Homo sapiens: one gene and its partners. The protein of the gene in region 3 purifies or fractionates together with the protein of the main gene of each other region. This does not show direct contact. Each region holds a gene or a part of one and is shown on either strand. Other genes may lie near its edges.

What was found.
Region 1: the proteins of OR5F1 (region 3) and UBA6 purify together in Homo sapiens (affinity purification with mass spectrometry; 3 studies listed by BioGRID and IntAct, with this or other methods). This does not show direct contact.
Region 2: the proteins of OR5F1 (region 3) and GALM purify together in Homo sapiens (affinity purification with mass spectrometry; 2 studies listed by BioGRID and IntAct, with this or other methods). This does not show direct contact.
Region 4: the proteins of OR5F1 (region 3) and IRGQ purify together in Homo sapiens (affinity purification with mass spectrometry; 2 studies listed by BioGRID and IntAct, with this or other methods). This does not show direct contact.

What each region holds. Positions count from the first base shown.
Region 1 is NC_000004.12:67,698,130-67,705,554, reverse strand, and holds the start of UBA6 (ubiquitin-like modifier-activating enzyme 6), read left to right. Parts: upstream 1-4,399; 5' UTR 4,400-4,435; coding exon 4,436-4,506; intron 4,507-7,425. UniProt on the Homo sapiens protein: Activates ubiquitin by first adenylating its C-terminal glycine residue with ATP, and thereafter linking this residue to the side chain of a cysteine residue in E1, yielding a ubiquitin-E1 thioester and free AMP.
Region 2 is NC_000002.12:38,732,072-38,735,265, forward strand, and holds the end of GALM (galactose mutarotase), read left to right. Parts: intron 1-1,394; exon of another isoform or gene 1,395-1,416; coding exon 1,417-1,494; 3' UTR 1,495-2,694; downstream 2,695-3,194. UniProt on the Homo sapiens protein: Mutarotase that catalyzes the interconversion of beta-D-galactose and alpha-D-galactose during galactose metabolism.
Region 3 is NC_000011.10:55,993,157-55,999,156, forward strand, and holds OR5F1 (olfactory receptor 5F1), read right to left. Parts: upstream 1,470-6,000; coding exon 525-1,469; downstream 1-524. UniProt on the Homo sapiens protein: Odorant receptor.
Region 4 is NC_000019.10:43,586,105-43,593,146, reverse strand, and holds part of IRGQ (immunity-related GTPase family Q protein), read left to right. Parts: coding exon 1-1,121; 3' UTR 1,122-7,042. UniProt on the Homo sapiens protein: Autophagy receptor that specifically promotes clearance of misfolded MHC class I molecules by targeting them to the lysosome for degradation.

The DNA of each region.
Region 1 (7,425 bases), on a different chromosome or scaffold from region 3:
GGCAGAAAATAACAGATGCTGGTGAGGATGTGGCAAAAGGAGAACACTAGTGCATTGCTGGTGGGAACGTAAATTAGTACAGAAACTATGAAAAACAGTATGGAAGTTTCTCAAAAATCTAAAAATAGATCTACCACATGATCCAACAATCCCATTCCTGAGTATACATCCAAAAACGGAATTCAATAAATTTAAAAGGTATCTGCATGCCCATGTTTATTACAGTACTATTCACAATAGCCAAGATATGGAATCAATCTAAGTGTCCATCAACAGATGAATGGATTTTAAAAATGTGTCATCTACACAAAAACATGAAATCATGTAGTTTGAAGCACCATAGATGGAACTGGAGGTCATTATGTTAAGTGAAATGCCAGGCATAGAAAGACAAATAGCACATATTCTCACTCATAAGTGAGAGCTAAAAAAGTGGATCTCATGGCAGTAGAGAGTAGAATGATGGTTACCAGAGGCTGGGAAGGTTGGGGGTAAGGAGGATGAAAAAGGTTGCGTAATGGGTACAAAAATACAATTAGATAGAGGAAACAATTTCTAGTGTTCGATAGCACTAGAGGGTGACTATAGTTAACAATAATTTATCATATATTTCAAAATAGCTAGAAGGCAAGATGTGAAATGTTCCTAACACAAAGAAATAAACAATGTTTGAGGTGATGGATATCACAATTACCTTGGTTTTATCATTATACCTTGTACGCAAATATCAAAATACCCCATAAATATATGCTTATTATGTATGTATTAATTTAAAAAGGAAATAAAACCATAATATTGCTGAACATTACACAAAAGCAACAGAAAAGGGAATTCTCTGAAATTAGAAAAGTTTTCCCAAAACCTGTGAGAAAGCAAATAAGCATAGAATAAGAAAGTAAAAATCTGCTTTGCCATTCATCAGCTATGGGATAACAGGCATAAATAAAGCCAGCTGTGAAATTAACAGAAAATACTATTTCTCTCTGGAAGATGCTTTAAAATGTCTCAAACACACACACACACACACACACACACACACACACACACACACCCTTAGAGTAACTGATTTTTTACTCACACAATGCCCTTTTCTCTAAAATCATAGAACATTTATGACAATATCAAAAGATTGTCAAAAACTCTGCTGTTTAAATCCTATTATTAAGATTGAAATATCTCACTCTTGGCTAGAATATCTAAAGTCACATTGACACAGAGAAATAGTTTCTACTTCTGAGAGGCAGAACTTTGCAATTTCCAAAAAACAGAACCCTGGGTCCATCTTGTATTACGTTGGTGCAAAAGTAATTGCAGTTTTTGCCATTAGTAATAGTTTAGATGTAGTGTAGAATTCTTTACAAACAGCCTTGCTTTCTTTTGAGTCTATCAAAGCACTACTTCATTTCAATTCCTTCTAAACTCCATACTTCCCCAAATTCCTACAATAAATCTATCTCTTCCTCTGTTGGTGAGGTACCCCATGGTTCTTCTGGAATGTGGGCTCCCTCCTTGCAATGAGCCAGTAAACCTGATGATATGGTCTGCTCTGTGTCCCCACCCAAATCTCACTTCAAATTTTAATTCCCATGTGTGCAAGGAGAGACCTGGTGGGAGGTGATTAGATTATGGGGGCAGTTCCCCCATGCTATTCTTGTGATAATGAGGGAGTTCTCATGAGATCTGATGGTTTTAAAAGTGGCAGTTTTCCCACGATCTCACTTCTCTCCTGCCACCGTGTAAGATATGTCTTGCTTCTCCTTCACCTTCTGCTATGATTTAAGTTTCCTGAGGACTCCCCAGCCATGTGGAACTGTGAGTCAACTAAATCTCTTTCCTTTATAAATTACCCAGTCTCGGGTATTTCTTTATAGCAGTGTGAAAACAGACTAATATACCTGACTTTCTTGGAATACAGTTTTGTTCCTGATAAACTTAGGCTTATTGGGCTAAGAAGCCTGTCTCATATTAGTTCAGGAACACCAATTTCACATAAAAATGAGCAATAACTCACGCCTGTAATCCCAGCACTTTGGGAGGCCAAGGGGTGGATCACGAGGTCAGGAGATCGAGACCATCCTGGCTAACACGGTGAAACCCCGTCTCTACTAAAAATACAAAAAATTAGCCGGGCGTGGTGGCAGGTGCCTGTAGTTCCAGCTACTCGGGAGGCTGAGGCAGGAGAATGGCGTGAATCCGGGAGGCAGAACTTGCAGTGAGCCAAGATCCCGCCACTGCACTCCAACCTGGGCAACAGAGCAAGGCTCTGTCTCAAAAAAAAAAAAAAAAAAAAAAAAAAAAGAGCAACAAAAAAAGCATCAAGTTCAAATCCATGCAGTTATTATGTGAAGAGAATAAGGAATATAACATCATCATCAAAGATAATAAAAACATGCCTGAAAGATGCACTACAAAACAATTTATTATTTTGAAACTAGCTAAATGACATTAGAGAAATGATAAAAGATATGGAAGAACTTGATTCTGAATTAGAAAAACCTCAGAAATGAGGTGACAGAACTCAGGAGAATTAGTAATAAAGAATAAACTACAAGAAACACAAAAGCTAATAAATGCAACAGATTATGATTTGCTGTAAAGAAACCGAGTCAATCCTTAGATCAATGTTTCTGTAATAATTCTGATTGTCAGACACTTTCTCCAATTAATTATTAAGGAGGGGCTCATGAAAACACTAGTCTCACCAAATTGATATATCAATTGTTGATAACAGTTTGTACCTTTTGTATATTAGTTTTGCTGAATGTAAAATCTTTGGCCTACATATTTTTCCCTTAAGTTTCCTCAATATGTCATTCTACTTTCTTATGACATAAAGCCTCACTGTCAAAAAGCTGTGATCGCCTAGTTTTCTTTCCCATTTTACATATGTGACAAAACATTAAAATCTGTTAAATCTGGTTGCTTGTTACATGCCTGAAATAATTCACACCATATTTTATCAAATCTAACATGCCCTCAATTTTAAGATGCATCGTTTTCTGTATTTATTTTTTAAAAATTCATCCTCTATTCATGGATGTTAAAATATGAAGAAGCGTGGGTAATGGCAGGCCATTGTTTTGGCCTAGCCTTCTACACTAGGCCCCATCAGATCAAACCAGAATGGAGTTGCTTGTGCTAAGCACCATGTAATTAAAGTGGATTTTGAAAAAATGAGCCAGTTTTTTTTAAAAAAACAGGAGATTCTAGTTAACCTAGTGGGCATAATAAGGAAGTATGCTCTGTTTTAACCTTTACAAGGAAAGAAACTTTGAAATAATCTGATTTTTGTTCTGTTTCTGCTTTCTTCAATCTTTTTCATTATCTTCAGTCCTGTAGCATTATCTTAGTGCTAGAGCAGAGCCTTGAAAGAATAGAACACAGATCAAGAACATTTTAATGTGGAAAAGGTTCACAACTGGATTGAGGAACACGGATAATGCTATAGGTGAGCAACATAAAGCTTCCAGGTATTTTAAGATGTGCAATTTTGAAGAGAATAGAGGGCACGAAGGATAATACAGTTTTGCCTGGACCCTCATCTCCATATGAGAGGAAAAATTTCTAATTAAAAATATGATACATCACAGAAAATTACATAATACCCAAAGTATATGCTAATTTTAAAAATCCTGCAGATGTTTATTCAAATATACAGTGTTATTTAGTGAAAGACAAATCCTAATGTTATTGTGTCCAACTCATTTTTGCTTTCTAAGAAAGGTGACACGGAAGTAAATGAAAAAGAATTATATGAGAACTTTTTAGATATGTGTTCTGGTAATCTAACAGTGACTAGCTCTATAACCTTGACCAAGTCACTTGCACTGACCGGAAGTTCCTTTCCCTTACCCACAAATTTAAGGGACCAAACTGGATGATCTAACGACATCTATGGCACTAAAAGTCACATGATTCTATTAAATCTGAGGCAGCGCCTCACATGTAGTGGACTCCCAAAATTATTTATTAAATGTATAACATCTTTAAGTGGTATCCCCTCACTGACAATCTGGAGCTATTAGCAGCCTTCAGTTTATTTATAAAATAAAGCTGTTTCCTCTTCTTACCGTTAAGACTCTTTTAAGGATTTGCAACGCTATCCCATCATTTCGCGGGTTACTAGAGTCCTGCATGTTTGGCTGTAGAGCAAGGGTGACGCGTAACTTCTGGACTTTGGTTCCATCTACATCTGCCGGATGCGGATGCCAGTCGCAACAGTAACGCCCCCTTCGGCCACCTGCACCACAGCACGCCATGCGGCCACACCCAAACCGGAAACCAGGACGCCCCTAGGGTTGACGGGAAGGCGCTGCCGGGCTCCTAGCTTCCCCAGGCCCGCCCCCTCTGATGACGTCTCCGCCCGCCCCTTGACCCCCCCACGGTCCCGCCCCTTCCTACCTTCCAGTAGCCGGCGGCGGTGTCTCAGGCGGCAATGGAAGGATCCGAGCCTGTGGCCGCCCATCAGGGGGAAGAGGCGTCCTGTTCTTCCTGGGGGACTGGCAGGTGAGAGGACGAGAAGGGCGAAGGTGAGGGGTCGCGGGTGGGACCCAGGCTCCGGGTTTCTGCTTCTTTCTTTCCGGCGGGCTGGGGGCGCCCGAGAGGCCGCGGGGCCGAGCAGAGCCGGCCCTGGGAGGCGAGGGGCGCGCGCGGAGTGGGTGTGGCGACGTGGGCTAGGGCCTCTGCTGTTGCCGGCTTTCCTGAGGGAAAAGTCCCCTTTCCGCACCTTTGAGGGCTTTCTCAGTTCTGGCTGGGATTCGGGATCCTCCTTCCTCCAAGTCACCAGACTTGGGGGGCTCCGGTCGAGAGCGAGTTCTGGTCTCGGTCACTTGGCGTGAGCTTCCCCGACTGGTGCCAAGCACCTTTCCTCCTTTCCGTAAAAAGAAAGCTAGGAGCGCCACTGTGCACCTCCACTGAGATCCTCTTTTGAAAACTATTACCAGAAGGAACTTGGTAAGAATGAATCAGTAGCAATCTGGACACCCTGAGGCCTTTGTTGACTTCGGAAGAAGGAAAAAAAAAAAGCCAGGAAAAAAAAATACACAAGTTACCCATTCTTATTTCCCACTTGGTTTTGAAGTTCTTCAGGTCTTTCCCGCCCCTGTAAAATTAGGGGGAAAATATTTGTGCTAGGCCTTTACCAATTTCTTGGTTAGTAGTTCCTCTTTCAATCATCTCATAATTAATAAAGCAAGTGGTTACATTCTATCCACCACTGTCAGAATACACCATGCCAAAGATAGAATTGATGGATGTATTATTTTCAGCTGATGTGAGACTTTGTAAACCTGTAGCCTTTTCGCCAGTTTCAGACTGAAGGGATGCTTTCAGTTTCATGGTGTTGTCTGCCATTGCCAACACTGCCAGAGTGGAGGGATATTATGTAATATAACCCGCGCCTTATTTGAAGCGTTTTTGATTGTCTTATAGATCATATTATTTTTACATATTTTTGAAACATTCCAGTGAGGCACAACTTTCTGAAAAGGGCCAGTCACGCCATTAAGTGGCAGAGCTAGTTAGACTGCAGCTGTTCTCGTTTTTATTCAGATTTACCCACCAGGCCTATTGCCCCCGCCATGCAAGGAAAACAGCAAGTGAAAGTGTACTAGGGATAAAATGATAGGAAAGTAGATAATAAAAAACTTTGGCCGGGCGCAGTGGCTCAAACGCTTGCAATCCCAGCGCTTTGGGAGGTCGAAGCAGGCGGGTCGCTTGAGCTCAGGAGTTCTTAGACTAGCCTGGGCAACATGGCGAAACCGCGTCTCTACAAAATACAAAAAAATTAGCTGGGCGTAGGTGATGCACGCCTGTAGTCCCAGCTACTCGGGAGGCTAAGATGAGAGGATCGCTTGAGTCTAGAGAGATCGAGGCTGCAGTGAGCCGAGATCGTGCCACTGCACTCCAGTCTGGGTGACAGAGAGAGACCCTGTCTCAAAAAAAAAGAAAAGAAACAAATTTTGTTAATTTTTATATTTTGTTACAATGCCCAAACAGGGTATATTGTGTATGTGTGTGTTTTTTATTAGGTAGGTGATCTCTTAGAACACAGCTATCTTCTGATTTGCCTTGGTAATTGGAATCAGTTTTTTTAATAGCTATCCGTTTAATTAGCTAGAAGCTGGTATCATTTGATATGTGCCAGTGTTTGGTGAGATAAATGATAACATTTTAATTACCTTTGTTTACAAATTCTTTGGCTTATTTATCAATGCTAGGACTAGAAAGTTGGATTCCAAGCCTGAATTTGATGCCATCGCATTGTTTTTAGAATCTTTTAATTGACAACTAGAGCTTCTCAGAACTAGGAATGGCCTCCACTTCTGCCAGTATATTGATCTCAGCTCTCACAGTGGTTCAGCTCCAAATGCTCCAGACTGGTTCCCTGTACCTGGGAATTATCTCTGCTTGCCAGTGTTTAGTACAGATACGTTTTTTGAAGGCCATGCTGTGAAAATGGGACGAGCACTGCTATAAATAATATGTTACTATAATAAGTATACTTTGTCAGATTTGCATATTTAGATTAGTTTTTTTCCTTTAAAATTTATTCATTTAACAGGGTTTTTTTGTTTTGTTTTGTTTGTTTGTTTTTTGACAGAGTCTTGCTCTTGTCACCCAGGCTGGAGTACAGTGGTGGGATCTTGGCTCACTGCAGCCTCCTCCTCCCGGGTTCAAGCGATTCTCCCACCTCAGCCTCCCAAGTAGCTGGGAATACAGGCGCCTGCTACTACATCTGGCTAATTTTTGTATTTTTAGTAGAGACAGGGTTTCACCACGTTGGTCAGGCTGGTCTCGAACTCCTGACTTCAGGTGGTCCGCCTGCCTTGGCCTCCCAAAGTGCTGGGATTACAAGCATGAGCCACCGCGCCCATCCCATTTAACAGGTTTTTTTAAGTGTTTCCTTTATGTCTAATATCAGAAACAGTAGGCAGTATGTGTGGTAGTCAAGAGCTAGACTGCCTGGGTTCAGATCCTGGCAGTGCCATTTGCCTGCTCTGTGACTTTGGGCAAATTTTAAGTTAACCTCCCTCAGCCTCTTTTTTCCATCTGTTCGTTGGAGATAGCAATAGTGCTTGCCCACTGTTTGGACAAGGTTGTTGTAAGGGTTAACTGAATAAGTACATCTAAAGCACTTAAATATGTAGCACAGGGTTATCTATTATTATTAAATGCCTGGTACTGTTTTAGGTATTTGGAATACAGTAGTGAGTTTTTAACAGACCATACATTTTTTTGGTAGTAGTGGCAGACAGTTAACGGTAAGTGATTTGAAGAAACTGACAGGTTAATGAGTTAGGCAGCAACCTAAGGATAAGAGTAGCCATTTTATTGATAGGGTGATCAGGAATGAGGTGTGTGGTATTTGTGACACAATATTTTAATAGAGGCTTAAGTGACAAGAAGTCAGCTATTCCGAGATTT
Region 2 (3,194 bases), on a different chromosome or scaffold from region 3:
GTGCAGTGGCACGATCTCAGCTCACTGCAACCTCCGCCTCCTGGGCACGATCTCAGCTCACTGCAACCTCCGCCTCCTGGGTCCAAGCGATTCTCCTGCCCCAGCCTTCCAAGTAGCTAGGATTACAGGCGCCTACCACCATGCCTGCTTAATTTTTGTATTTTTAGTAGAGACAGGGTTCCACCATGTTGGCCAGGCTGGTCTCAAAACCCCTGACCTCAGGTGATCCACCTGCCTTGGCCTCCCAAAGTGCTAGGATTATAGGCGTGAGCCACTGTGCCCGGCTCAAAAGTTCATGCTTATTCTCTTCTGCAAGTCACAGAAAACCCATAGCCAAGCTACTAACATGGGATTTACATGGTTTTAAGAAAGCTGAAATTTTGTACCTTCAAAGCCTTTATCCAGTTTGTTTCTCCTTAACAATACCTTCTCGTTTTCTGCAGCCACACTTAAGGAGAGCTTCCATATCGTCTCCTCCTATGTGCTCCCTCATAACTTTCTTTTCTGGTTGTTACCCAGAGCAGTACTCCTGAAAGTGCCAGCCCACAATAAGAAGCTTGCACCTTGGGCTGGGCAAGGTGGCTCATGCCTGTAATCCCAGCACTTTGGGAGGCTGAGGCGGGAGGATTGCTTGAGCCTGAGATTGAGGCTAACCTGGGCAACACAGGGAGACCCCATCTTTACAGATTATTAGAAAAATTAGCCAGGTGTGGTAGTGCACACCTGTGGCCCCAGCTACTTGGGAGGCTGAGGTGGGAGGATCCCTGAGCCTGGGAGGTCAAGGCTGCAGTGAGCCATGATCACACCACTGCACTCCAGCCTGTGCAACAGAATGAGACCCTGTCTTTAAAAAAAAAAAAAAAAAAGGGCCAGGTGCGGTGGCTCACACCTGTAATCCCAGCACTTTGAGAGTCTGAGGCAGGTGTATCACTTGAGGTCAGGAGTTCGAGACCAGCCCGGTCAACATGACAAAACCCTGTCTCTAGTAAAAATAAAAAAATTATCTGGGCATGGTGGCAGGTGCCTGTGATCCCAGCTACTCTGGAGGCTGAGGCAGGAGAATCGCTTGAACCCAGGAAGCGGGGTTTGCAGTGAGCTGAGATCGCCCCACTGCACTCCAGCCTGGGCAACAGAGCAAGACTCCATCTCAAAAAAAAAAAAAAAAAGCCTACACCTTACACCAGATTATAGATCAACACACTGCTTCCCTTCATCAGGAAAGCCTTCCTTTAACAAAGTGTGCTTTTTTCACTCTGATTAAAGTTCTTTATCTCACTATGAACCAATCATAAACAGTTCCCGCACTGGCAGCCATCCACAGAGCACTGGTCTAGAAGCCCGTCCAGAAGCACACCCAAATGGTTAATGTTGCAGCCTGCGGTGTCAAGCATCACCTGTGTTGTTTCCCCTTCACAGCCCCGCTTCCCTCCTGTGCTGCTGAGGCCTGGTGAGGAGTATGACCACACCACCTGGTTCAAGTTTTCTGTGGCTTAAGGAAGTGTGAAGATATGATCCAGTCCAGGGCTAGGCTCAGCCACCTGTCTCCTGTCCAGAAAAAAGGTGAAGATTAAGAAGCTTTCAGAATGATTCTATGGATTAAAATCATACAAATGGTGGCTGTTCTGAGAATCAGTCTGGGTATTGATTTCCTTTTCCAGTGACTGGCTCCAGGCCATGTCTAATGACCAGCTCGATTCCCTGTGCAGTTCAGAGGGCAAGTGAACCCAACCAACAATGTCGTCATCTAAGCCCTGACCCTAGCCAGGGACTCCCATGCTGCTGTTGGCTCCATCTCTCCACACTGCCTCTTTCTTTTCAACTTTTTGCCCTTCCTTTCTTTAAAGCTATTCTCACATTGCTTTTATTTCCTCCTCCTTCACCTCCAACCACTGTCAGCAGCACTCTGGAGTTTTCAAATGTCACATTAGCCTCACCCTGCATGCTAGGAGATGGACCTGTCTCTATACAGCAGTAGATGATTGATAAGTGAGGAAACTGAGGCTTACAGAGGTTGAAGACCAACAAGCTAATAAATAAAAAGTTGAGGCCGGGCACGGTGGCTCACGCCTGTAATCCCAGCACTTTGGAAGGCCGAGGCAGGCGGATCACGAGGTCAGGAGATCGAGACCATCCTGGCTAACACGGTGAAACCCCGTCTCTACATAAAAAATTAGCTGGGTGTGGTAGCACGCACCTGTAGTCCCAGCTACTTGGGAGGCTGAAGCAGGAGAATCGCTTGAACCTGGGAGGTGGAGGTTGCAGTGAGCCGAGATCATGCCACTGCACTGGGCAACAGAGCAAAACTCGATCTCAAAAAAAAAAAAAAAAAAAAGGAAAAAAAAGCAGCTCTCTCTCTCGGGAGAGGGAGGGGACTTCCGAGAGGAAAAGGCCTGCAAGAGCCTTTGGGTTAACTGAGAAAGCACAGCCCGGCCAACGCTTGGGAAGAAAGACAGGCAAGCACTGGAAACAGGAGCTATTAGGGTGAGGAGAGAGCCTTGCCTTTCACAGCACAGTGAGGATGACATTGCACCAGGGACAGAGATTGTATGTGACAAGGCTGGGGCTCCTTCTTTCCTAGACAATCAAAGTATCAGTGATGGGTTTTGGTTGGTGATTTTGAAAAAAAAAAAAAAAAGTATGTTATACTAGTGTATGCTGTACTGAATTGAAATAAAACCAAAATCTGCATCTTCAGAAGACTTGTTCCTTTACTCAGCTTGAAATCTCTCAGGCGTGGACCTTTGGGAAATGGACCAAGAATATGGGTGTGTTCTGGATTCTACTTTGCCCTCCAGTGGGAGCCCTGGCATTTTCCTACCTAACAGTTAGGAAAGCTATCTCAGTGGAAGTAGCTTTCCACACCTCCTCTTTCTTTGTAACCGATAATAAACCAAAGATCTTGTTTATTTTTTAATTCACTTCAGCATGGATTTTTCTGAGCACCTGCTCTGTACACAGCCCTCTGCTGGGTCTGTGAAGGGATTCAGGTCAGGTGTGATGCTGCCCACAGCAGCCAGTCAGGTGAGGTACATGCTCAGTTGTCTTCTCACTGGTGAGGTTAACTTTGGTGACTTGAGCAAGATGCTGCCTGCAGATCTCTCCACTCTTATTAAAGTTACCAATATATACATTAGCCAAGAGGCCTCAGAGGTGAACTATTAAGCTGACTGCAACCTAGCTACCAATTTGATTAT
Region 3 (6,000 bases):
AGAGGAGGTAAAAAAAGCAGAGTTTAGAATTCCTATTAAAACTATAGTCCTAAAATTTGATTTTATTCCCCCAAGAAGTAGTTCAGTGAATACAAAGGAGAAATATATATTAAACTTATAGCATTTCTCACCTATGTGATATTTAACAATCCCTTAAAAATCATAAATGGTGAAAAATAATGCATAAGAAAAAAAGAATGGATAATAGAAATTATTTTATATTTCCAGTTTCATGTATCATTGTGGCTTTGGTCTGTGAACATATATTCCATTTGATTTCTAGATGAAATTTCATTTAAAAATATTCATTATTTTGGAGAACCTAACAAAGATATATAGAATCATAGTAAAGTCAACATGCCATGATCTTGAATCAGTTTGGTAACTTTCTTTATCCCTAACTGGATACAACTATTAACAGAATGTGTTTACTGAGAAAATATTCTAATAAAAAAATGTAGATATAAACTAGACTTTGAAAGTAACTAAAATATGCTCTTTAGTTGAGATTTTTAGCCAAACAATCACAGAAAGGAAGAGGTCCTTTTCCTGCTAATTACATTCGCTAAAGCCTTCTTTACTTCCTTACTCCTGAGGCTGTAGATCAGAGGATTCAACATGGGAATCACCACTGTGTAGAACACAGAAGCCACTTTGTCCTGATTCAGGGAGTAGCTGGAACTAGGTCTCAGGTAAGTATAGATGCAGGTGGCATAGAACAGAATTATGGCTGTCAGGTGAGAGGCACACGTGGAGAAAGCTCTGTGCCTCCCCTCCCCCGAATGCATAGAAAAAATGGAGAAGAGAACGTAGGAGTAGGAGGAGAGGATGACAAGCAGAGTCCCCACAATATTCACACCAGCCAAAATAGAACTTATGCTTTCTTTCAGGATTGTGTCAGAACAAGAGAGCTTGAAAAGTGGGGGACTGTCACAGAAGAAGTGATGGATGACATTGGAGTCACAGAATGACAAGCTGCTGACATGGCTTGTGTTGACCATGAAGTTCAGCAACCCTGCAGCAAAAGCCCCGGCTGCCATTTTTAGGTAGACGGTCCTGGACATGATCAAGGAGTAAAGCAGCGGGCGACATATGGCCGCATACCTGTCATAGGCCATTAACCCAAAGAGGATGCATTCGGTTGTCGCCAGGGAGATAAAGAAGTACATCTGTAGGAAGCAGCCAGCAAAAGAGATGGTTTTCTTCTCTGATAATAAATCTGCCAGCATCTTTGGGGTGATGGTAGTTGAGTTACAAACGTCCACAAAGGACAGGTTAGCCAGGAAGAAATACATGGGTGTGTGAAGCTGGGAATCGATCCTGATTAAGAGGATCATCCCGAGATTTCCCAGTACTGTAAGTGTATAAATCACAAGAAAAAACAAAAAGAGGATAATCTGTAGCTCCAGCGTGTCTGCTAATCCCAATAGGACGAACTCAGTCAGTGAGGTATAATTTTTTCTGGTCATTTATGAGAAATATATTTTGTGTAAACTTTGTATTAGTTGCACATATTTTCCTCTCTAAAAGTTTACAAAAAAAAAAAAAAAGAAGTGTTAATAGGACAGTCACATATGGCAAATAAATAAACAAAAACCCAGAATAATATGTCATAATTACTGAAGTAAGAGGAATATTAGAGGACCCATGGGTAAGCATTTACATGTAATAAACAATTGATTGTATTGAATTGGAGTTGTAGGCTTCTCAAATCACTGGCTGAAGTCCACATACTCTATTTCTGTGAATACAAATACTTTGTTCTATTGTTTCTATACTAGCCCACATCCAAAATGTAAAATAATAAAAATATTCTTGCTAAAATTTCTCCCATTCTCAGAGCAGGTATGTGAATTTAACTCAATGCATTCTTTTTTAATTTTCTCAAAATCACTCTGTACATTCTTCAACTCCAAAATTCATACTTTATCTCTTGAGAATGGCTTATGTGTAGCCCTAAGCAGCAAAAAGAGTGACCATTTCAAATAATCAATATTTTCACATCTATTGTATCCTTAAAAATAATTTAGTGATGTTTTAAAAGTAAACCAAATGATTGTTATACTACAATGTCCATTATCAAGTTAATTCCAAGAAGCAGCCGACAGGGTACCTATCCACCTTACTTAATAACATTACCAAATCTTTAAAACTTCCTCCCCAGATGGCTACTTACCTAAGTAAGTAACTATTATTTTTTTTTTATCAGAGGTTCTTAGTTGGAGCTTAAAAATAAAAGAAGAAAATTTAATTTAAAAAATGCAGTGGAAAATTGAATTATCTATTGGTAAAATCTTAAGATGCCTTATGATTAAATACTTGTTACTGCACTTGTATTTTGTTTTTCTCCAAGAAGACAGGGTAACCATGGGGAGTAGATTATAGCTATTAATTGCAGAGTCAATTCTCTACAGGCAGGAGCTCTGTCTCAAAACAATATTAAATATAATATGATCACATAGAGATGTATGGAATCAGACATTATGAAAGTCTTACATCATAAAGTGGTTTGTGACCTCTGGAAAATAATTGTCTATCTACACTGACTCTCTCTGTGTCTGTATTTTTAGCTTATTCTAAGTGCGTGACTAAACTATCGTTCTCCCCCTGTGCCATTTTAGTATGTGGGTGCACCCCTCTTTTTTTCGGTGTGACTTAAAATTCAGCTATTTTCCTGTATAAAGGTAGTGAGAAAGGGTAGTTAATAAATATCTATTGTATGATTTTTAAAGAAATCCTATAACCTGAGCAAATAGCACAATAGATTTAAAAATTATTATATATTTATGATTTTGAAATTGTGTTGGTTTTTGCCGTTACTATTTGTGATTCTTATCCTGCAAAGACATGAAGCTATAGATTTTCTAGATCTAAATTCAAAAAGAAGACAACGTAAAATATACTACATTGGGTATTCAAATGCAAAGAGAGTCTATTTGCATAGGGAACTCATAATGCAGCAATTGCTATGTTAATTATTTTGTTTAAATTCTCAATTACTTCTCTCAACCAGTCTTTCAGGTTGACATTATTATTCGCACATTTTATAGATGAAAAAAGTAAGGCTTTAATCTGTTAAACAACTTCCCCAAAGATAAACTGTTGGTAAGTAGAGGAATAAACTTGAACACAATCTTCAACATAAAGAACTAATACCTAGCTCGCTATTTCCTATCATGCTCCATTTTAGCTTATATGTGTATATATATGTGTGTATGTTTACGTGTATGTGTATATGTAGCGTGTGTGTATGTATATCTCATAGTGAATCTAATCCTCCAATCTTCAAAGCACGTAGGAGACATCAGCATCTAAAGGGAGGCCTCTAACATAATGCAAGAAATTTGTTAAAAAGTTGACTTTTAAAGATCTCACCATCATGTCTGATATGGTTTGGCTGTGTCCCTACCCAAATCTCATCTTGAATTGTAGTTTCCATAATCCTCACATGTCATAGGAGGGACACCATGGGAGGTAATTGAATCATGGGAGTGGTTACCCTAATGCTGTTCTTTTGTGATAGTGAGTGAGTTCCCATGAGATCTGATGGTTTTATAAGGGACTTTTCACTCTGTTGCTCATTCTACTTCTCCTTGCTGCTGCCATGTGAAGAAGAATATGTTTGCTTCCCCTTCTGCCATGATTGTAAGTTCCCTGAGGCCTCTCCAGCCATGCTTAACTGTGATTCAATTGAACTTCTTTCCTTTATAAATTACCCCATCTTAGGTACATCTTTATTAGCAGTGTGAGAATGGACTAATACAATGCCATCAAGACCTATGCCATGATTGATTATTACCTATTATATTTTCAATATTTATCTGCTTATGTATGTAAGAATACATAACTTAAGGAATGAAAGTATGTGAAATAATTTTTACTGGAGAAACTCAACTGTGAATTGAAAGAGATGGAGGAAAAACAATATATTCTCAATTCATGAATTTTGTTAGAATCAAGGAGAGAAGATAATACTATGAAAAAAGAAGAGATTGATGTTATCAAACCTTAAAAAAGCAAAGACTGAAAAAGTAGAATGAACTGGAAGTTTTAATTTAAAGTTTTGAAAGGAGTTTATTCAGGAAGAAGCAGAAAGAACAATGAATAAAAATACTTTAATTCATGAATGTTTAAATGGGGACAATACGGCCTTAGAAACCATTAATTTCTTAAAGCCATTGTGGTATAGCTTTCCTACAAAAAACTTTCATTTTTTTTCTTTTTTTAAATTATTATTATACTTTAAGTTTTAGGGTACATGTGCACAACGTGCAGGTTTGTTACATATGTATACATGTGCCATGTTGGTGTGCTGCACCCATTAACTCGTCATTTAGCATTAGGTATATCTCCTAATGCTATCCCTCCCCTCTCCCCAACCCCACAACAGTCCCCGGTGTGTGATGTTCCCCTTCCTGTGTCCATGTGTTCTCATTGTTCAATTCCCACCTAGGAGTGAGAACATGCAGTGTTTGGTTTTTTGTCCTTGCGATAGTTTGCTGAGAATGATAGTTTCCAGCTTCATCCATGTCCCTACAAAGGACATGAACTCATCCTTTTTTATGGCTGCATAGTATTCCATGGTGTATATGTGACACATTTTCTTAATCCAGTCTATCATTGTTGGACATTTGGGTTGGTTACAAGTCTTTGCTGTTGTGAATAGTGCCGTAATAAACATACGTGTGCATGTGTCTTTATAACAGCATGATTTATAATCCTTTGGGTATATACCCAGTAATGGGATGGCTGGGTCAAATGGTATTTCTAGTTCTAGATCCCTGAGGAATTGCCACACCGACTTCCATAATGGTTGAACTAGTTTACCAATGGAAAAACTTTCATTCTTAAGGGTACAGTTTGATGAGCTTTGACAACACATACAGTCTTGTAACAACTACCACAATTAAGACAGAATATTTCATTTAGCCTCATAGATTCCATTATATTTCTTTATATTTAATTCCTCTCCTTCCTCTAGTCCCTGACAACCACTGGGAAACCACAGATGTGATTTCTGTAATTCTTTTCCCCTTTTTAGAGTATGATCTAAGTGAAATCATACAGCTTATAGCCTTTCAAATCAGGCCTTCATCTTTACTATGATGTTTTGAAATTCAACCATGTTGTTCTTTTATCACTTTGTTTTTTGTGAGGTTTTTTTGCCTTTATAAAAAAGAAACTTCCAAAAGCAATGGACTAATGGACTACTAAGTAGTAGTCCATTCCATTATGTAAAACTAATTGAGAGAAAATGACATTGTTTCCAAATAAGAGCCATTATAAATAAAGCTTGTCTTTGTATCTACATATTTTTAAAATTTCACTTGGGTAATAACTGGAAGTCTATTGGATCATAAGGTAAGTAAAAGCTATTTAAGAGACTGACAAACTTTGACAACATTTTAAAACGGTGTTTTGTGTCAACACAACAATGTCTGGGAGTTCCCGTTGCTCTAAATCATTACCAGCACTTGGCATTTTCTTTCTTTTACATTTTTTAGCTAGTCTGATAGATGTGCCATTATTTCTCATTGTGGTTTTAATTTGAATTTCCCTAACAACTAATCATTTTAAACATTTTATATGTTTTCTTGCTATCACTATTTTTTGTTGTTTTGGTAAAATGTCCGTGAAAATTTTCTCTTTGGTTGTTCGTTTTATTATTACTGTTTTTTCATAGTTCCTTTTATACCCTGGATACAAGTCCTTTAATGCATATGCACTTTCACAATGCATGCTTTCAGTTTATGCCTTGACTTTACATTTTTGAGAGTAGCTTTTTATAAGCAGAAGGTAATTTCAATTAAGTGAAGCAAGTACATAGATACAAAGACAAGCTTTATTTATAATGGCTCTTATTTGGAAACAATGTCATTTTCTCTCAATTAGTGTTATGTAAGAGAATGGAATACTACTTAGCAGTCATTATTAAGTCCATTGCTTTTGGAAGTTTCATTCTTATAAAGGCAAAAAAGAAAAAAACCCACAGAAACAAAT
Region 4 (7,042 bases), on a different chromosome or scaffold from region 3:
GCGCTGCGCCTGCTTCGGTCCCCACAGCACCCACTCCCTTCCCAGCCCCAGAGCGCCCGAATGTGGTGCTCTGGACCGTGCCTCTGGGCCACACGGGCACTGCCACCACCGCGGCCGCCGCCTCTCACCCAACGCACTACGACGCCCTCATCCTCGTCACCCCTGGGGCCCCCACTGAGAAGGACTGGGCCCAGGTCCAGGCCTTGCTGCTACCAGATGCGCCTCTTGTCTGCGTGCGCACAGACGGCGAGGGCGAGGATCCGGAGTGTCTGGGAGAAGGCAAGATGGAGAATCCCAAGGGCGAGAGCTTAAAGAACGCAGGTGGAGGGGGATTGGAGAATGCACTCAGTAAGGGAAGGGAGAAATGTAGCGCTGGATCGCAGAAAGCAGGCAGCGGGGAAGGTCCTGGGAAAGCTGGCAGCGAGGGTTTGCAGCAGGTTGTCGGCATGAAGAAATCAGGTGGTGGCGACTCAGAGCGGGCCGCTGCGTTAAGCCCGGAGGACGAGACGTGGGAGGTGCTGGAGGAGGCGCCGCCGCCAGTGTTCCCCCTACGGCCTGGCGGACTCCCAGGGCTATGCGAATGGCTGCGGCGAGCGCTCCCCCCAGCCCAGGCAGGGGCACTGCTGCTGGCGTTGCCACCAGCATCTCCCAGCGCTGCCCGAACCAAGGCTGCGGCGTTGCGAGCCGGGGCGTGGAGGCCAGCTCTGCTGGCTAGTCTGGCGGCGGCGGCGGCACCACTCCCAGGGCTGGGCTGGGCATGCGACGTGGCACTTCTGCGGGGTCAGCTGGCGGAGTGGCGACGGGGCCTGGGGCTGGAACCCACGGCACTGGCTCGACGTGAGCGTGCCCTGGGCCTGGCTTCTGGAGAGCTGGCAGCGCGCGCTCATTTCCCAGGCCCGGTGACGCGCGCCGAGGTGGAAGCAAGACTGGGCGCCTGGGCGGGCGAGGGCACTGCTGGGGGCGCAGCACTGGGGGCTCTCTCCTTCCTGTGGCCTGCGGGTGGTGCAGCGGCGACAGGTGGCCTGGGCTACCGAGCGGCTCACGGCGTCCTGCTGCAGGCTCTCGATGAGATGCGGGCTGATGCTGAGGCTGTGCTGGCACCCCCTGAGCCTGCCCAGTGAGGAGTGGGAGGGGGCTTGGGAGTCCAGACTCTGACAGGGGATGCCTGGGCTTAATCCTGGGTGCTTGAAGGGGATGTGGACTCTTGACTTCCAGCTGGGATGTGTGACTTCTTATCACCTGGATTCAGAGAGTCTGGGGGACAGGAATCCTGATTTTTTTTTTTTTTTTTCTTTTTTTTGTGAGACGAAGTCTCTTGTTGCCCAGGCTGGAGTGCAATGGCGCGACCTCGGCTCACTGCAACCTCCGCCTCCCGGGTTCAAGCGATTCTCCTGCCTCAGCGTCCGGAGTAGCTGGGATTACAGGTGCCTGCCACCACACCTGGCTAATTTTTGTATTTTTAGTAGAGACGGGGTTTCACCATGTTGGCCAGGCTGGCCTCGAACTCCTGACCTCAGGCGATCGACCCGCTCCGGCCTCCCAAAGTGCTAGGATTACAGGCGTGAGCCACCGCCCCTGGCCAGGAATCCTGATACCTTTGGGAACCATGGTGAATGACATCTAGACCCTTCTGTCCTGAAGGGAGTTGGTGGCCCAGACTCTAGCAGGGACTATGTCTTTGTCTCCTAGGGAGTAGAAACTGGAGTTACTGGATGTTTAGTCCTCCAGGGAGGCTGGTAGAAGTCCTGTTTCCTAATTGGTGGGGAGGTGTCCATGACTGGGACCTGAACTCCAGTATAGGGGAGGGAGACCTGAGCGCCCCAGGGAGCTGGAACTCTTGGGCTTCAGAGCCTCAGAGGGAAACAGGGTCTACATTTCTCTGGGAGAAAAAGCCTGCACACAGGTCCCCAAGGAGCAGTGGGCTTTGAATCTTGATGGGGTGGCGGAGGCCCCTGGGGTCTGAGACTTCCGGGGTTCTAAGATGGCTGTGGACCTTGGTTCCTAAATATTGGGTAAGGGGAGGTCTGCATCTGGAGGAGGGATCGGGGGCTTGTGCGAGAAAGCTGGAGACTTCTTGATCTCTCCTGGGGAGTGGATGGGTTTCTATAATTGCCCTCCAAAAGCATGTAGGGAGGGTGGTCCCACAAAAATGAGGTGAGGTGGGTAAGAGGTCTGGGCATGGTGGGCTCTGGGAGTAGCCAGGGACCAGGAATGAGGTCTTTTGGGTGTGGAAGGGCAGTAAAGCATACCTCAGAGACAGCTCCTCCAAACCTTGTATTGGGATCCCGGCAACTGCCTCTGTGAGTGTGACTGGGAAGGGATATGACTGCCTTCATCTTCTAGGTGCTGAGCAATTCAGGTGATCTCTGGGGAGTCTGTTTCTCTGTCTCTTTTCTTTAGGAGTTTCTATCTTTTTTTGGCCTTTTTCTCCTGGTATTTAACCATAACCCTTTATGGCCTTGGTGTTTTGTGCACCTTCCTTTTCAGAAGAGCAGCTGTACTGCTGCACTGGTCCAAACACTTCTGTATGGACACCTCGGGTATCCCCAAGAGGCTCTGCTTTCTGATGTACATAGAGGGTGCTGCATTGAGCCAGGGGCCCACCAAATGGGTGGTCAGGCACTTGAGACCATGGGAATATGCCAGGAGTGAATGAAGCAAAGGCAGAAACCACAGTGCCTGGAATGTTCTAGGCTGCTAGCCACATGTGGGGGAAAAGTTGCAGGTTACAGAATTCTTCAGTGTCAAAAACAGAAAAGGAGGATCTGAGAATCCAAGCGATAGAATCCCTTTTGTCGTAGACAGAAAGAGCAAAGTCCAGAGAGGGCAGGCTTGAGGCCCAACAGCACACAGTAAGGCCCTGTGGGTCTGGCCCTTGCCTATTCTCATTCACTGCCCCTTCCCACTCCTGTCCAGCCTGATAGACTTTCCTTCTTTTTTTTTTTGAAATGGAGTCTCACCTTGTCACCCAGTCTGGAGTACAGGGATGTGATGACTGTAGCTGAGATGACAGGCATGTGCCACCACACCTGGCTAATTTTTGTAGTTTAGTAGAGAAGGGATTTCACCCTGTTGGTCAGGCTGGTCTCGAACTCCTGACCTCAGGTGATCCACCCGACTCAGACTCCCAAAGTGCTGGGATTACAGGTGTGAGCCATCATGGCCGCCTGACTCTTTCTGATGCCTGAGTGGCTACCTTGAGTCCTGCCTGGGGACCCATGCACCTGCTGTTCTCTTTCCTTCAAGGCTCTACTCACAACTTCCTGTTCTACTCTCAAACCTTCCTGTGACGGGCTCAGTCAGATCTCAGCTCACGTATCCCCTCAGAGAGGACTTCCCCTCCCTGACCACCCTATCTGAAGTAGCTCACATTCCCCCACTATTCATTTCGGCCAGTTGAGTTTCCTTGTAGCAATTATTACTGTCAAAAATGATCTTATTTATTTACCTGTTTATTGGCTTTTGACCCGTTGCCTGTCCTGTTCTCTGTTGTTTCCCCAGCATCTAGAACAATAGGTGCCTGACACAATAGGTGCTTCGTAAATATTTATTATTATTATTATTATTTTAGAGACAGGGTCTTGCTCTGTTGCCCCGGCTGGAATACAGTGGGATGATCATGGCTCACTGCCATCTCCAACTCCTGGGCTCAAACGATCCTCCCACCTCCGCCTACAGAGTAGCTGGGACTATAGGTACACAGCACCAAATTTTCTGTAGAGACGGGGGTCTTGCTTTGTAGCCCACACTAGTGTTGAACTCCTGGCCTCAAGTGATCCTCCTGCCTTGATGGGATTACAGGTGTGAGCCACCACACCCAGCCTAAATGTTTATTTCATTGGTCAGTGTCAGAACTAGGATTGGAATTTAGATTGTTAATCTCTTGCCACAAGATAGGAAAATGGAGCAAGATGAGGAGAAAAAAGCATTTAATGGGAGAGAACACCCTTGTCTGAGGTCAGGGACCTGGGAAGCAAGCACGACTTTGCCACTGTCACTGTGTGTTACTTGGACAGTGCCTTATTTTCCCATCTGTGAAATAAAAGAGCTGGATAAGAACCTTAGTTTTGAGATCCTGTCTCCCTTAAAAGCTGAAGACAAAGGTAACTGATCCAAGGGCAGACAAGGGATGGTACCATCATCTCCAGCTTGGACTCCCACTGCTGACAAAATTTGTCCCTTCAAAGTTGAGATAGCTACCATGGGGAAGAGCACTTAGTTCTATACTGAATGGCTCCAGGCATTTTCATGAAAGCTCTTTCAGCTTTGGGGAAGAATATTCATCCATATCTTTACCCCATCATATTAGTGTCTAAGCCCTGCAATCAGGCATGTCAGCCACGTGATGGAATGGGAGGGCTGCAGGGCAGCACTGTCCAGTAGAAACGAAATGCAAGCCACATATGTCATTTTAAGTTTTCTTTTTTTGAGATGGAGTTTCACTCCATCACCCAGGCTGGAGTGCAGTGGCACGATCTCGCCTCACTGCAACCTCCGCCTCCCAGGTTCATGTGATTCTCCTGCCTCAGCCTCCTGAGTAGCTGGGATTACAGGCATATGCCACCATGCCTGGCTAATTTTTGTATTTTTAGTAGAGATGGGGTTTCACCATGTTGATCAGGCTGGTCTGGAACTACTGACCTCAGGCCACCCGCCTTGGCCTCCCAAAGTGCTGGGATTACAGGCATGAGCCACCGCGCCCAGCTAATTTTTGTATTTTTATTTTATTTATTTATTTATTTTTTGGGAGACGGAGTCTTGCTCTGTCACCCAGGCTGGAGTGCAGTTGTGCGATCTTGGCTCACTGCAACCTCAGCCTCCCAAGTAGCTGGGATTACAGGCATGCACCATCATGCCCAGCTAATTTTTGTATTTTTAGTAGAGATGGGGTTTCACTGTGTTGGCCAGGCTGGTCTTGAACTCCTGACCTCAGGTGATCCACCGGCCTCAGCCTCCCAAAGTGCTGGGATTATAGGCGTGAGCCACTGCACCCGTCCTAATTTTTGTATTTTTAGTAGAGATGGGGTTTCACCATGTTGGCTAAGCTGGTCTGGAACTCATGGCCTCAAGTTATCTGCCCACCTCAGCCTCCCAAAGTGCTGAGTAAGCCAAGTTTTCTAATAGCCACATTAGACAAGTAAAAGGAAACAGGTTAAATTCATTTTAACATGTTTTACTTAACCCAATGTATCCAAAATAGCATTTCAACATGTCATCGGTTTTTTAGTTTTTTTTTTTTTTGAGATAGTGCTTCGCTTTGTTGCCCAGGCTGGAGTGCAGTGGCACAATCTCGGCTCACTGCAACCTCCACCTTCCAGGTTCAAGTGATTCTCCTGCCTCAGCCTCCCGAGTAGCTGGGATTACAGGCACCCGCCACCATGCCCACTAATTTTTGTATTTTTGGTTAGAGATGGGGTTTCGCCATGTTGGCCAGGCTAGTCTCAAACTCCTGACCTCAGGTGATCCACCCACCTCGGCCTCCCAAAGTGCTAGGATTACAGGCGTGAGGCACCGTGCCTGGCGTCATCGGTATTATTTAAATGAATTATGTTACGTTCTTTTGTGCTGTCTTCAAAATCTGTTATATATTTTACACTTACACCAAATCTCAATTACCATGGTACATTTTTATCTGAAATGCTTGACCTTTATTTTGATTTCATAAAATTCATAGTTGGAGAAGTAGATTCACATATCCAAGTTGTTCCAATTATATAATAGTTTTCCAAAAACTGAGATGGGTGTCCATTTTTTTTTTAAGTAAAGATGCAGGTCTGGTTATGTTGACCAAGTTGCTGGGTTGTTTTGTTTTGTTTTGAGACAGAGTCTCACTTTGTCACCCAGGCTGGAGTGCAGTGGCATGACCTCAGCTCACTGCAACCTCTGCCTCCCAGGTTCAACTGATTCTCTTGCATCATCCTCCTGAGTAGCTGGGACTACAGGTGTATGCCACCATGCCTGGCTAATTTTGGTATTTTTCTCAGAGACGGGGTTTCACCATGTTGGGCATGCTGGTCTTGAACTGCTGACCTCAGGTGATCCGCCCACCTCGGCCTCCCAAAGTGCTGGTATTACAGGCATGGGCCACCACACCTGGCCTCAGCTGTTCAATTAAAAGTAAATACAACTTAAAATTCTATGTTTCATTGGCAGTAGTGCAACATTAATACTGAGTAGCCACATGTGATTAGTGGCTATGGTATTGGACAGGGAAGGTACAGAATACTTCCATCAACATAGAAAATTCTATCAGTCTAGCTCTAGGGGCAGATAGTCCTTCCACTGACTTGGGCAAGTCACTCTACAAATGGCATCTACCTCACATGGTTATGGTGAGAATTCAGCGTATGTATGTACATGCAGGCACACAATATGCACACAGACACATAACATAGTACACCCTTTCCTGAAAAGCCTGACACATGGAGCTCAAACATGAGTGCCACCCACCCCTGGGCAGCACCAAGATGGCTCTAGTCTGGGTGCCTTTGTCTCACCCCCATGCCTTTGCTCGGAGTGTGCTCCTCATTTTTCTGCCACTTTGACCCTGTCTCTGATTTGGTCCTGTCTGACATCACTGCTATATGCTTTGCTCCTCTCAATTTCCTCTGCCCTCATGCCAGCAGGAGTCATGCCAGAGATCATATCTGAGAAAGCAAGACAATTTTGTGTGTGTGTCTGTGCCCATAGAGGAGTGCTGGTTGTGTTGATATAGTTGTAGATTGGTTGTGTTTACACAGTTGTATATATTGACACCCTTGAGTGTTATGACTTCTTTTGGGGGTGGTCGCCTTTTAAATCATAACTTTTAATGGGATTCCATTTTAGTCTTTGTGAAGACATAAGGTTGTTGGCAGGCATCTGTCCCTGGGAGCATCCAAGCAGAAAAGACTAAGACTCCCTTGTAGACAGATCACTGGCCGCCACTGAAGTGTGTCTGCATGGCACCACAGGGCTGGAAGACCCTTGAAGGCAGGAATTCAAGGAAATGTATGATGAATTTTGGCATTGCCATCAAAAGCAGAACAGGCATGGAAAACTT